4 linked regions of the Homo sapiens genome follow. The protein of the gene in region 1 interacts with the protein of each later gene in a pairwise test. Each region holds a gene or a part of one and is shown in the gene's direction. Other genes may lie near its edges.

What was found.
Region 2: the proteins of PCBD2 (region 1) and SSX3 interact in a two-hybrid assay, tested with the Homo sapiens proteins (one large-scale study listed by BioGRID and IntAct).
Region 3: the proteins of PCBD2 (region 1) and KCNIP3 interact in a two-hybrid assay, tested with the Homo sapiens proteins (one large-scale study listed by BioGRID and IntAct).
Region 4: the proteins of PCBD2 (region 1) and BRF1 interact in a two-hybrid assay, tested with the Homo sapiens proteins (one large-scale study listed by BioGRID and IntAct).

What each region holds. Positions count from the first base shown.
Region 1 is NC_000005.10:134,903,933-134,907,930, forward strand, and holds the start of PCBD2 (pterin-4-alpha-carbinolamine dehydratase 2), read left to right. Parts: upstream 1-1,198; 5' UTR 1,199-1,207; coding exon 1,208-1,291; intron 1,292-3,998.
Region 2 is NC_000023.11:48,346,704-48,350,203, reverse strand, and holds part of SSX3 (protein SSX3), read left to right. Parts: intron 1-81; coding exon 82-217; intron 218-616; coding exon of another isoform or gene 617-663; exon of another isoform or gene 664-807; intron 808-1,755; exon of another isoform or gene 1,756-2,599; coding exon 2,600-2,700; 3' UTR 2,701-2,704; intron 2,705-3,168; 3' UTR 3,169-3,500. UniProt on the Homo sapiens protein: Could act as a modulator of transcription.
Region 3 is NC_000002.12:95,310,847-95,314,346, forward strand, and holds part of KCNIP3 (calsenilin), read left to right. Parts: intron 1-3,500. UniProt on the Homo sapiens protein: Calcium-dependent transcriptional repressor that binds to the DRE element of genes including PDYN and FOS. Affinity for DNA is reduced upon binding to calcium and enhanced by binding to magnesium. Seems to be involved in nociception.
Region 4 is NC_000014.9:105,211,394-105,214,001, reverse strand, and holds part of BRF1 (transcription factor IIIB 90 kDa subunit), read left to right. Parts: exon of another isoform or gene 1-1,827; intron 1,828-1,837; coding exon 1,838-1,889; intron 1,890-2,608.

The sequences.
Region 1 (3,998 bases):
ACTATTCAGTTAAAAACAAACAAAAAAGAGGCCGGGCGCGGTGGCTCACGCCTGTAATCCCAGCACTTTAGGAGGCCGAGGCGGGCGGATCACGAGGTCAGGAGATTGAGGCCATCCTGGCTAACACTGTGAAACCCCGTCTCTACTAAACATACAAAAACAAAATTAGCCGGGCGTGGTGGCGGGTGACTGTAGTCCCAGCTACTCGGGAGACTAAGGCAGGAGAATGGCGTGAACCCGGGAGGCGGAGCTTGCAGTGAGCCGAGATCGCGCCACTGCACTCCAGCCTGGGCGACAGAGCGAGACTCCGTCTCAAAAAAAAAAAAAAAAAAAAAAGATACAAGTGAGTATTCTTAATAGTATGTCAATTACATCTCAAAAAAGTCAAAAAAAAAAAAAAAAAAAGAATGAAAGAATACCTCCCCAAAAATGATACAAGAAAAGATTCACCTAAATCTGTTCACAGCTGTCTGCAGAGCTCCTACTGTGTGCTGAGCCTGGGGGTAAACAGGGCACGGACACGTTTGGGAGGGGATTACAGGCCGGGTTTCCACACTTTTTGGTCCAGGCAAACCCAGACGAGCCAGCTGGCTCAAGAACTTGGCAGCTGCGTGATGACTGAACAGAGGCTGCGTTCGAACCCACTACTGCAAGACTTAGGAGCCCCCGATGGGAACTGCCGTGGTTCACTGCCCCAGCCCCGCCGCTCAACTGCCCCGCCCTGGCCTACGACATCCTCCTGCCCGCATGGACTGCGCGCAGCGCCGCCAAGCGGGGAGCCCAGCTCGGTGCTAGCGCCCGCGAAGCGGAGGAGGCCGGCGCCCGAGGCTGGGCGAAGTTCCTCCTAGCGCAGCGAGGACCGGAGGGCAAGGCCAGCGCGCGCCGGGCGACCTGCGTCCCGGGCACAGACGCGACGGGCCCGCACGGGGCGGGGACCGCGCGCGCCTGCTGGGCCTACGGCTGTGGGGCGCGCAGAGTCCACCTGGCGGCCAAGGGCGCTGGCGACCGCTGAAGCTCCTGGGGGTGTTCGGGGTCCGGGCTGCGCCTGTGCCCGCGGGAAGGCTGGGCGCTTCCCACACACAGACCCCGCTCCGGGCCAGCCCCGCAGGGAGACTACCAGGGCTGGCGGTAGCTGGGCGTGGTCGGGTCGGGGGCGGCTGTGGGCGGCCGGCAGGCAGCGCGCGGGGCAGCCCTCGGCAGACGGCCAATGGCGGCGGTGCTCGGGGCGCTCGGGGCGACGCGGCGCTTGTTGGCGGCGCTGCGAGGCCAGAGCCTAGGGCTAGCGGCCATGGTGAGTGCACAGCGGCCGCGTGGGTGGGGGTCCGGGGTCGGGGGGCGGTGCGAGGCCCGGCGGCGTCGGCTGAGGGACCAGCGGGACTGGGGCGAACCCGGCGTGGGCCGAGCCTTGGAGCTCGGGCGTCGGGTCACCGCGTCCCGGGACTGACCACCTGTCCGGTGCGCCGCTCAGAGACCGGGGTGGCCGCAGCCTCCGCCACTTGCCCTTGACTTTACACTTCCGCCGAAGCCTACGAACTTGCCAACCGGAAACAAATGGGAACGAATTTTGTTCAGCAACTACAAAAGGCAGATGTGAAAAGTAGTTGCAGAACAATTCGGTGCCCGCTGCCGCTCGTTGTGCTGAGGACGAACGGCGCTGCGGGCCTGGCTCCCTATGGCGGCTCCCTGCTCGCGCTTCACTCCAAGGGGAACCCACAGAGGTTTTGGAGGAGTTATTAATAAATTGTCTTTTTTGGTGACATATTGACTTTTCTTTCCTTTTCCAAGGGGCCGTCAGTTTTCCTGCTGTAGAAATTAATATTTTGGAGTAAATGGAGGGAAAGTTTTAACATGCAGCACCACCTAGTGGAAAAGTGGTGCGTTAAACTCACCATCTCATTTTAAGTTGCATTTTAACCGCCCATTTCAGTTTGAAATGTTTTGTTTTGTTTTGTTTTTTCGACACGGAGTCTCGCTGTATCGCCGAGCCCGGAGTGGAGTGGCGCGATCTCGGCTCACTGCAACCTCCATCTCCTGGGTTCACGCTATTCTCCTGCCTCACCCTCCCGAGTAGCTGCGATTACAGGCGCGTGCCATTTCGCCCAGGTAATTTTTTATATTTTTAGTAGAGAGGGGTTTTCGCCATGTTGGCCAGGCTAGTCTCGAACTCCTGACCTCAGGTGATCTACCTGCCTCGGCCTCCCAAAGTGCTGGGATTACAGGCGCGAGCCACTGCGCCTGGCCTGAAATTCTTTAATAGAAGAATTTTTTTTTTTTTTTTTTTTTTTTTTTGAGAAGGAGAATCACGCCGTCACCCAGGCTGGAGTGCAGTGGCGCGATCTCGGCGTATTGCAAGCTCCGCCTCCCGGGTTCACGCCATTTTCCTGCCTCAGCCTCCCGAGTAGCTGGGACAACAGGCGCCCGTCGCCACGCCCGGCTAATTTTTTTGTATTTTTAGTAGAGGCGGGGTTTCACCGTGTTAGCCAGGATGGTCTCGATCTCCTGACCTCGTCATCCACCCTCCTCGGCCTCCCAAAGTGCTGTAATAGAAGAAATTTAAAATAGCTCGAAGACGGAGGAAGATAGGCACTCCGCCGCTTCTTGTCCACGAAGGGGAGAACACAAGTTGAGTGCCTACTGTCACCTAGGCGTGTCTTCAGGCGTACTCTGCCCCAGGTGCTAGTGATCCAGTAAGATTAGGGTGTTCTGGGAAGGAATGAGTCAACAGACATGATTTGAGCGCTGCCCCATGCCAGGCTCAATGCTAGGTACCCTCACATTCAAGATCTGTAATCTAAGCCTTTCAAAAAATCTTGGCAGGTAGATATTATAATATCCCCACTACAGACAGAAGGATCCCGGAATTCAGAAAAGCGGAGTTTAGTATCCCACAGCTAAAAGTAACAAAGTTAGGCCTTAGATCTAGTTTACTCTCTTCAAATCCTAGCCTACCCCCCATCCCCTGAAAAAATTAAGCCCACCACCAAGGGTTCTGCTGTGAATGTGCCCTCATGGGGGCCTTTGATGTTATGTAGATGAAGTGGCTCCATTTCCCAGTCCTGGGTGTGGTCCCTGCTGCTGGGCAGGTGTCTGTTGTGGGCATAAAGTGCATACCACTGATCTTAGCGGGGATGTGGATGGTCCAGCACTCAGAGAAAACAGCTCAGTGTGTTCTACAGACTCCAGGTTCCTGCCTTATTACAGGCAGCATGTTTAATGGTTTTCTTTGCAGCTACTCAGTGTGGACACACATAATTCTGTTTCTTTTCCAAAATTCTCTGAGTTGACAAAATAAGTGTTTAATAAGAATTTCAGAATTCTTTCTTTTTTTTTGAGACGGAGTCTCGCTCTGTTGCCCAGACTGGAGTGCAGTGGTGCGGTCTTGGCGCACTGCAACTTTGCCTCCTGGGTTCAAGCGATTCTCCTGCCTCAGCCTCCTGAGTAGCTGAGACTATAGGCGCGTGCCACCACGCTTGGCTAATTTTTGTATTTTTAGTAGAGACGGGTTTCACCATCTTGGCCAGGCTGGCCTCGAACTCCTGACCTTGTGATCTGCTCGCCTCGGCCTCCCAAAGTGCTGGGATTACAGGCATGAGCCACCACGCCTGGCCAAGAATTTTAGATTTCTTATGATAGATGTATGTGTAAGTTTTTCAGAACTGTCACTGGAAAACTGATGAATGAATCTCTTTTGATTTTTTTTTTTTAATTGAGTCGGAGTTTCACTCTGTTGCCCAGGCTGGAGTGCAGTGGCACGATCTCGGCTCACTGCAACCTCTATCATCCGGGTTCAAATGATTCTCCTTCCTCAGCCTCCTGAGTAGCAGGGACTACAGGCGCCTGCCACCACGCCCAGCTAATTTTTTGTATTTTTAGTAGAGATGGGGTTTCACCATCTTGGCCAGGCTGGTCTTGAACTCCTGCCCTCGTGATCCACCCACCTCGGCCTCCCAAAGTGCTGGGATTACAGGTGTGAGCCACCACGCCCGGACTTTTTTTTT
Region 2 (3,500 bases), on another chromosome or scaffold:
CATGTGAAGACCCTTTGTAAGCTCAAAAGCACTATAGAAATGTCACTGATACTATTTATCTATGACCTTCACATTATAAAGATCATGCCCAAGAAGCCAGCAGAGGAAGGAAATGTTTCGAAGGAAGTGCCAGAAGCATCTGGCCCACAAAACGATGGGAAACAGCTGTGCCCCCCGGGAAAACCAACTACCTCTGAGAAGATTAACATGATATCTGGTAAGAGGAAGCAATTCAGGAACAATCCCACTGGCTTCCCTGGCGACGTTCAGGTGTGTGGACTGGGTGTGTGGCATGGATCCCAGATAACCCTGGGTCCAGGCTGGGCTGAGGAGCTTGCCCAGCTCCAGATGAGATGTTAGACATGACTTCCAGAGACAGACTGGAGTTGTCATCCATATAAAAAAAAACCACGTGACTTGAGGAAAGTCTTCCAAATTTCCTCAGCTCCAGGTTCCTAGTCCATAAGATGGAAATAAAGAATCATAGTTCATAAATTGTTTGGAGACATTAAATTTAATCTAGAAGGCCTGATGACATGAAAGGTGCTCAAGCGATTCTATCTGTGATAACCTGGGATCATATCTTACTCAGCTCAATGCCTGTTACCCAATACAGGTGTCCTTCAGAGATACTGCAGGTTCGGTTCCAGACCACTGCAATAAAGTGAGTCACACACATTGTTTTTTGTTTGACAGTGCATAAAACGTTATGTTTACACTACAGTGTAGTCTACTAAGTGTGCAATAGCATTATGTCTAAAAATGTATATACCTTAATTTTAAAATAATTCATTGTTAAAAATGCTAACAATCTTCTGAGCCTTCAGTGAGTCACACTCTTTTTGCTGGTGGAGGGTCTTGCCTCGGTGTTGATGGCTGCTGGCTGGTCAAGGTGGTGGTTGCTGAAGATTGGAGTGGCTGTGGCAGTTTCTTAAAAGAACACAACAATGAAATTTGCCACATCGATTAGCTCTCCCTTTCATGAAGGATTTCTCTGTAGTATGTGATGCTATTGGATAGCATTTTACCCACAGTAGAACTCCTTTCAAAGTTGAACTCAATCCTCTCTAGCTATGAAAGTCCTAGATGGCATCTCCTTCCAATAGAAGGCTATTTTATCTACATTGAAAATCTGTTGTTTCGTGTAGCCACCTTCATCAGTGATCTTAGCTAGATCTTCCGGATAACTTGCTGCAGCTTCTCCATCAGGGTTTGCTGCTTCACCTTGCACTTTTATGTTATAGAGACGGCTTCTTTCCTTAAACCTCACGAACCAACCTCTGCTAGCTTCACAGGTTTCTCCTGCAGCTTCTTCACCTCTCTCAGCTTTCATGGATTTGAAGAGAGTTCTGGTCTTGCTCTGAATTAGACTTTGGCTTAAGGGAATGTTGTGGCTGGTTTCATCTTCTATCCTGACCACTCAAACTTTCTCTATTTGAGCAGTAAGGCAGTTTTGCTTTCTTATTCGTGTGTTCACTGGAGTATTAGTATTATTATTTCCTTCAAGAACTTTTCCTTTGCATTATATACTATTATTTCCTTCAAGAACTTTTCTTTGCATTCACAGCTTGGCTGTTTGGTGCAAGAGGCCTAGCTTTCAGCCTGTCTTGGCTTTCAGCATGCTTCCTCACTAATCTTAGCCATTTCTAGCTTGTGATTTAGAGTGAAAGGCATGCGACTCTTCCTTTCATTTGAACACTTAACGGCCATTGTAAGGTTGTTAATAATCCTCATTTCAGTATTGCTGTGTCTCAGGAAATAGGGAGGCCCAAGAAAAGGAAGAGAGACGCGGAACAGCTCATCGGTGGAGCAGTCAGAAGACACAAAACATTAATCGATTAAGTTTGTCATATTCTATGGGTGCAGTTCCTGGTACCCCCAAAACAATTACACACAACAGGGTGATTATAGTCAATAATAACTTAATTGTACTTAAAAAAACTAAAAGAGCATAAATGGATTGTTTGTAAGGCAAGGATAAATGCTTGAGGATGGATACCCTATTTTCCATGATGTGATTATCATGCATTGCATGCCTGTATCAAAGCATCTCATGTACCCCATAAGAATATACACCTACTGTGTACCCACAAAATAAAGAACAAAAATTATTTTAAAACACTAAAAAACAACAAAAACAATTTTAGTAATAATAGTAAAGCTCACTGATCACAGATCACTATAACAGATATAATAATAATGGAAAAGTGTAAAATTGGTGAGAATTTCCAAAAAAAAAAATTGCAGCATCTGCGAAGCAGTATGAACATGAAGTGCAACAAAACAAGGTATGCCTGTGTGGCTTTAACAAATACGTGCTGTATGAAATTAGGTATGGGGGAATGTTCCCGTAAGTGAAGAGGTTGGGAATCTAAGCCTGAGAAGGGAAGGAGCCAGAAGCTAAAACTTTAATTGGCATTTGGCCTATATTGGTGTGGGTCTAAGGTCTCAGCCTCTCTAAGCCAGAGAATGTGAAAAACTGGATAAAGAAGGCCCATGGGCACTTGGGAGGAAGCAGGCATCTCCTTTTTTTGAGTAAACAGAGCCTAACACTCTCCAACCTACCCAACCCTCACTTTCCAACTATTCTCCATCATAGGACCCAAAAGGGGGGAACATGCCTGGACCCACAGACTGCGTGAGAGAAAGCAGCTGGTGATTTATGAAGAGATCAGCGATCCTGAGGAAGATGATGAGTAACTCCGTAAGAGAACCTTCCACTCATCCCCTGCATCCCTGCAGATGTGCTATTCTGTTATGATACTGGCATCCCATCTGTCACTTGCTCCCCAAATCATTCCCTTCTTATAATTTTCTAGTGTACAGCATTGAGGCTGAATGATGAGATTTCCCATGCTCTTTCTACTCCCTGCCCTGTATATATCCAGGGATGCTCCCTACCCAGGATGCTGTGGGGTCCCAAACCCCAGGTCAGCCCTGATATGCGGGCCACACCTTCCTCTAGCCTAGGAATTGATAGCCCAGGCGAGGAAGTCACTGTGGCATGAACAGATGGTTCACTTCGAGGAACCGTGGAAGGTGTGTGCAGGTCCTGAGATAGGGCAGAATCGGAGTGTGCAGGGTCTGCAGGTCAGGAGGAGTTGAGATTGAGTTGTCACGTGGTGGGAACTCACTGCCACTTACTTTCCTTCTCTCTTCTTGCCTCAGCCTTGGGGATATGACACATGCCCATGATGAGAAGCAGAACGTGGTGACCTTTCACGAACATGGGCATGGCTGTGGACCCCTCGTCATCAGGTGCATAGCAAGTGAAAGCAAGTGTTCACAACAGTGAAAAGTTGAGCGTCATTTTTCTTAGTGTGCCAAGAGTACGATATTAGCGTTTCCATTGTATTTTCTTGAAGTGTGTCATTCTGTTAGATATTAACATTTTCACTGATGAGCAAGACATACTTAATGCATATTTTGGTTTGTGTATCCATGCACCTACCTTAGAAAACAAGTATTGTCAGTTACCTCTGCATGGAACAGCATTACCC
Region 3 (3,500 bases), on another chromosome or scaffold:
CTGAGTAAGCCGGGGCACCTCATTGATCCTTTCTAAGCCTTCCGTGAGAAGCCAGGCTGGAACCTGTCCACAGGGCACATTTGAAGATGGGAAATAATGTGTGCAGTGCCTGGTGATCAGGAGGCCCCACCCTCAGCCCCTCCTTGGTCCTGTTCAGTGCACCCCAAGGATTGGTGCTGGCTCTTTGCCTTGGGCTGCATTCTGGTGGTGTGTTAACGAGAGAACGGGCAGAAATCACTGCCCTGGGCTTGCCATGGGTGATATTTGGTGTTTGCCGAGTATAACAGGGCTGAACAGACAATGGCAGCCTCATGCGGCCCCCACGATCTCACACACACATTCAGACACCTCACACTCACACCTATGCACACACACCGGTGCCTCTACCACACACAAGCTTGCACACTCATCATGCACACATAGGTAGGCATACCATACACACTTGCATACTCACATACACACACCACATGCAGGCACCCACACACCATGCACACTCATGGGATCACACATGTGAGTATGGTGCGTATAAGAGTCTGCCTCTGACTTTAAGGAAAAGGTGCAGACTTGCCCTTGACAGCTGCATCTTGTTTGCTCTCTTGGACCCTCTCTAGCTGTGTGATTTCCAGGGAGCGTTTGTCCCCTGGCCAGGAGAATGGGCATGATCGGGGTCCCAGCCTCCTAGGCTTGATGGGGGTCATGAGTGGAGGGGATCAACTGAGGGGTCTGGGCAAACAGCAGGCACAGTGGCTGACAGCCACAGCCAGAGGTCCATGCCTGTGCACAAAGGGACTGGCTGCTACGCACCAGATCCCCGTCCTTTACCCACAAATGCCACTCCAGGGTGCTCCCAGCACGATTCCAGCCCCCTCCCTTTTGCCACCACCACCTCTGCTTCCCCACAGAGCCCCTACCCATCTGTGATGCTGTCACCTTGGCTGAGACTTGTCCCCAACCCCTTCCCATGGAAGCGCTAGCACCTGTGAATGCATGAGTGAGTTCCACATGCACCCCCAACTTCTCGGGGATGGGGGTGGCAGGTTTTGCAGGTAGCAGAAACATGATGAGGTCACTAAAAGCACATGCACATAGCTCGACCGGGAAGGACCGCCTTCAGGGCACTGTTCATTCTGCATCAGAATGAAAATGCGCCTGCTCTCCCTTAGGGTGGGGGCGAGAGCACGGTGGCCATCGCATGTGCTGGCGGCTCAGGTCCACTCTGACGGGCACAGCTTCAGGTCGCTCGAGACTCAGATTTCCTCCACTTCAGTCTTCCAGGGTTTTCTTGGTGGCAACAAGTATTTAAGGGGTGCTGCAGTGGTACCCTCCCTCCATCCCTCAGGTCCTGCAGATGCTCAGCCTCATCCTCCCGTCTCTCTCTGGCAGGCAGAGGTGGCTCAGGACGGGTGGGGCTGGTGTGCATCCTTTGCCGAAGCTTTCTGCACACCCGTGACAGCAGCAGCTATGCTGAGTGGGGTGGACGGGGAGAAAGGTGACAGAGGGGCCGGCATGGCGTGTTCAAGTCAGGGCGGGGGGGACCACCCCTGCACGGCCCACCCCTGCATGCCCCATCCCACCTCACGGAAGCTTCCTAGAGGGCAGGGCCTTTCCACACCCAGCTGTCAGGACACGTTTGCTGAACAACTTGTCAAAGGCGCACAGGAGACAGGGCCAGGGCTGGGCCAGGGCACCAGCGATGGGTTTGTTCCCCTGCATGGATGTGTTTACCGGACCTTGTGCCGGCACTGGGAGCAGATGTGAACGACACATCCAAGAGCCTATTTGATTGTGCAAGGAAGGCAGTGTGGAGCTCATCACCCTGATTTACCAGAGCGTCCATGGCAGCTCAGAGAGGTCACGTGACTCAGCAGATGGCACAAGAAGCGGGGGTTGGGGTGGGGGAGGCTCGGGCCCAGAGCTCCACGGTGCCCACCCTGACGAGCGTCTTTGGTGGGAGCTGAGGGACGAGGGAGCCCAGGGACCTCACGGACAGAGGAGCCGGGACTCCAATGTGCCCTTTGTCTCCCTTGGCCATAGCTCCCGGGTCTCCTCTCTTCAGTCCAAACACGTCCCGTGTGTGTCCCGCAAGGAGGCCGGGCTGGTGTGGTCACACTGAGGGCTTTGTGCACGTGTGAAGTGCTGCGCGGTGTGCAGATGAGGCATCCCCCCTCTTTGGGAGCTGGCACAGGCTCTGGGTGCAAAGAACAATGGGGCCCATTCAGTGCAGCCCCACTGTGTGCTCTGCGAGGCCCAGCACGGTGTCCTGAGCCTTGGGGTCCTGTGGGAGGGGGGCGGCCCAGACACTGTGCCCTTGTACTGGGGTTTTTCCATTCAGCAGAAGTGGGGCCAGAGACACATGTCGGGAACAGCTGGGAGTGAAAGCCAAGGCCCAGCCTGGGAGTCCTGGAGGCTTGGGTGAGGTAGAACGTCGGCAAGGAGTGGACAGGACCCAGGGTCCTGGAGACAGTGGGCAAGGGCTAGAGCATCTGTGGCTGGGCCCTGGGTGGCCAATTCTGGGTGTGAAGACCCCAGGATGGAGTCAGGAGGTGGCCAGCAGTGGGGCCTCTAAGAGGGGAGCCCAGGAGACTCAGAGCACAGGCAGCCTGGCCCCACCCTACCCAGGAGAGGCGCCCCATCCTCAGCCTAGAAGCTCCTTGGACCCTCTTCCATGACCCGGAAGCTGGGACTCTGGCCTGCCCTGCATGCCTCCCCTGCATCTAAAGCCTCTCCCTGCAGGATGCCTCTCCAGAGGCATGGCCAGTGCCACAACTGGACAGACCTGTTTCTCAAGTTTGATGCCCACAAGGGCTGTGGGACTTGGGTTTCTTCAACTGGAATAATAATGTCACCCACAAATAACCTGGGGTCCCAGCTGCAGACAACCGAAACAGGGTGGGCTCCAGGCCTCAGGAAGTTCACAGAAACTCCGGAGGACCAGAGAACGAGGTCTGAATGGGACGAAGCCAGGGCCCCACCTAGCGCCTTGGGAGATGCCTGGCATCCTGGACCACTCTGGCAGGAACGCTCTAGCAGCTGCTGCACGCTTCTGTGTGACACGGTGCAGCCATTCCTCACACACACACACACACATACACACACACACACATACACACACAAGCACACACACATACACACACACATGAGCACACACACACGCATACTTACACACACGCATGCACATGCCCCTCCCCCAGAGAGAAGACCCACATCCTCCTCAGTCGCCGATGCATCCCAGGGAGATGCTCATTCTCCCCGGGGTGCCATGGCAACCCCACGTAAAATCATAAAGACACCACCACCAGTGCTCCTGGGAAAGAGGGGTAGCAGAAAGGCATCGGAACAAAAGGTGAGTTAACTCGTCTCTAATACGTAAAGATCTATAAACAGAATTTTCGCGTATTTGAAGATACAGGATACAATTGACATCATGAAGCATCAAGATACATGATATCAAAGTGAGATGTCAGATCAGTGCAAATTTTCAAGGATTTCTGAGAATTAAC
Region 4 (2,608 bases), on another chromosome or scaffold:
GGCCAAAGCCATGGCCGAGGTGATGCCAGGTGGGAGCTTGTTCTCCAGGCGCTCTCAGGCCCTCCCGTGTGGCCTGGCTGCCTCAGGTTCACACAGGATACTGCGTGGAAGAGGGGGAAGCCCTTGAGACAGGCCCCCAGCTAGCCCGCAGACCCCAGGAGCCCTTGCGGTTCTGCACTCATGAACACTACGCACCCTCTCTCCAGCCGGGTTCTGCAGGAGTAGGGAGCTTTCTGGCCCCCCAGGGTGAGGCCTGGCACAGCTGCTTCCTGGTTCTGGAAAAGCTGGACTTGTCTGTCAGGACCTTGGGTCAGTGCAGCAGGACCTTGTGGCTTGAATTTCAGCCTGTCCTCAGTGCCAGGTGGGGGAGGGAGGGTGTGTCCCTGCAGGAAGCGCACCCTCCTAACAGCACCGCTCTCCCTGTAGCCCCGTATTCCTGCCCGCCAGCATCTGCTCCTCTCTAGCTAAGGTACAGTCTGCCAAAGTCAAAGAAACTGCCTCTTCCAGAGGTTGCAGTGGGCCGAGATCGCGTCACTGCACTCTAGCCTGGCGACAGAGCAAGATTCCGTCTCAGAAAAAAAAAAAAGAAAAAAACTACCTCTCCTTGAGCCAGCGGGGTCTCAGGGCCCTTCTCAATGGGGGCCTGCTGGCCTCACCTTCCAGAGCATGAATCTCCTGGGGACTTAGTCCCACCGGCCAAGATCAGGCCTCCCACCCAACTGCCAGGCCTGCCTCCTGGAGCGCCAGCCACTTCTGGAGAGACCACAGTGGGGTGTCTCATTGAGGTCAGCCTGCTGAGAAGCCCCGCTGCAGGGCCAGCTGCCATCCCCAGAGGCCCCCACTCCACTGCACAGTGGGCCTGGGGATGGGAGTGGGGAGGGCGGAGCAGCAGCTGTCAGGCTCCAGGAAGCAGGCTGGAGGCCTGGCCTGAGGATACAGCACCACCAGGAGCCCTGGTGTCCAGACTGTCTCCAGTCTGGAGAGGGACCACATGGGGAGCCCGGGGCCTCAGCCTGGCTCACACCTGCTATCAGCTTCACCCCGAGCAGAGCTCCACGTCTAGATGTTCTGCTAAGGTCCACCTGTCATGGGGTCCCTTCCCAGTGTCCCGAGGGTTCATCTGACACGTCAGAGCCAGGCAGGGCCCTGCCTCAGGCCCCCTACCGCCTCCCCACACAGCTGTGCCCTGGAGGGAAGGGCTCTGCCCCGCTGCGTCCTTCCCCACAGGCCCTGAGCCCTCTCATTGCCCGCCCGACAGCCCTGTGTGTCCGTGCTGGAGGTTGTGGGTAATGCCTGCGTCCTCTCCCCTGGGCCCCCCTGTCTCCCTGGGGGGACCAGCAGTCTCCAAGAAGACTTGGCATGTGGAAGGCACCTTTGGCCTTTGTGTGTGGCGGGCCGGCGAGCAGGCCCTGTGCAGGGTGTTGTCAGCAGATGTAGGGATTGCCCTGGGCCTGGTGAGGGTTGGGGAAGCACTCTCGGGTCTGACAGTGTCCCTTCACCCTCCCTCCCCTCCTCCCTGAGTGAGGTAGGGCACCAGGCAGCTCCTTGAGGGCTCAGGCACTGTTGGAAGGGGAGTGGGCTGGGGAGCGGGGCGTCTGCAGCTTCTGTGTTTGTGTCGAGTGCTGCTCGCTGTTGAGAATGTGAACGGGTCAGAGCTCTGTGTTGATGTGCAGTGAGCACTGATGGAGCACACAGAACCTGGACGCAGAACCAGGCTTCCAAAGGGACAGAGAAACAGTCAATTAACACTGGGAAAGGGAAGATGGGCAAAAGGGAACAAGTGGGCAGGCGTTCGGGAGCCTGGGCTGAGGCCGCCATGCTGTGCTTCCTTTTGCAGGTTGAGGCCTCTGGTGTCTACGCAGCCAGCAAAGAAGGTGGCCACGGGAGAGGTGTGTTGTCCCACGCAGCCAGGGCAGGGAGACCTTGGGAGGCAGCCCACTTCTTCCTGGGCCCAGATGCTTGGTCTGTGACCACAGGGAGAGCAGGCCTGACAGAGGCGCCTGCCCCTGCTGCCCCATACTTGCCTGGCATGGCCAGAGAATCGAGGCCCGAGGGTGGGAGCTCCCGGTTGCCGGAGCAGGAGCGGGCAGGAAGTGGGGACCGTTGTGTGCCTGCTGCTCAGCGCTCGGGCCAAGGCTGAGCAGCCTTGCTGTGGGCCTGGTGCCTGCAGGGAGCCTGTATGTAGGAAGCAGGCACTGCCAGGTCACAGGGCCCAGCCCTCCAGGGCTCAGGGGTCTTTCACCTGGACTGTCACTTGTTGGGGACTGGTCTGGCCCAGGAAACGAGGGTGAAGGTGCTGGCAGGTGGCGGGGGCTGGGGCAGGGGCCGGAGCAGAGCCTCTGTCTGTGTTCTGGGGGTCAGGGCAGGCCAAGCCCCCGGGGGCTGAGGCCACAGTGTCCTCGGCCGAGGCCTATGGTCTGGAAAGGTGTTCTGCATGCTCCCCGAGCACTGGGGTGGGGCCCAGTAGGATACAGGAGCAGGGGCTGGCAGAGGCCTGAGGGTGGGATCTTGATGCTGACACAGCTCATGGCACAGCCCCCAGGAGGCCAGAAGGGGCCAGTGGGCCTGGGAGCCCTGGCCAACCCCGGGAGCCACTGGTGTGGCGGGA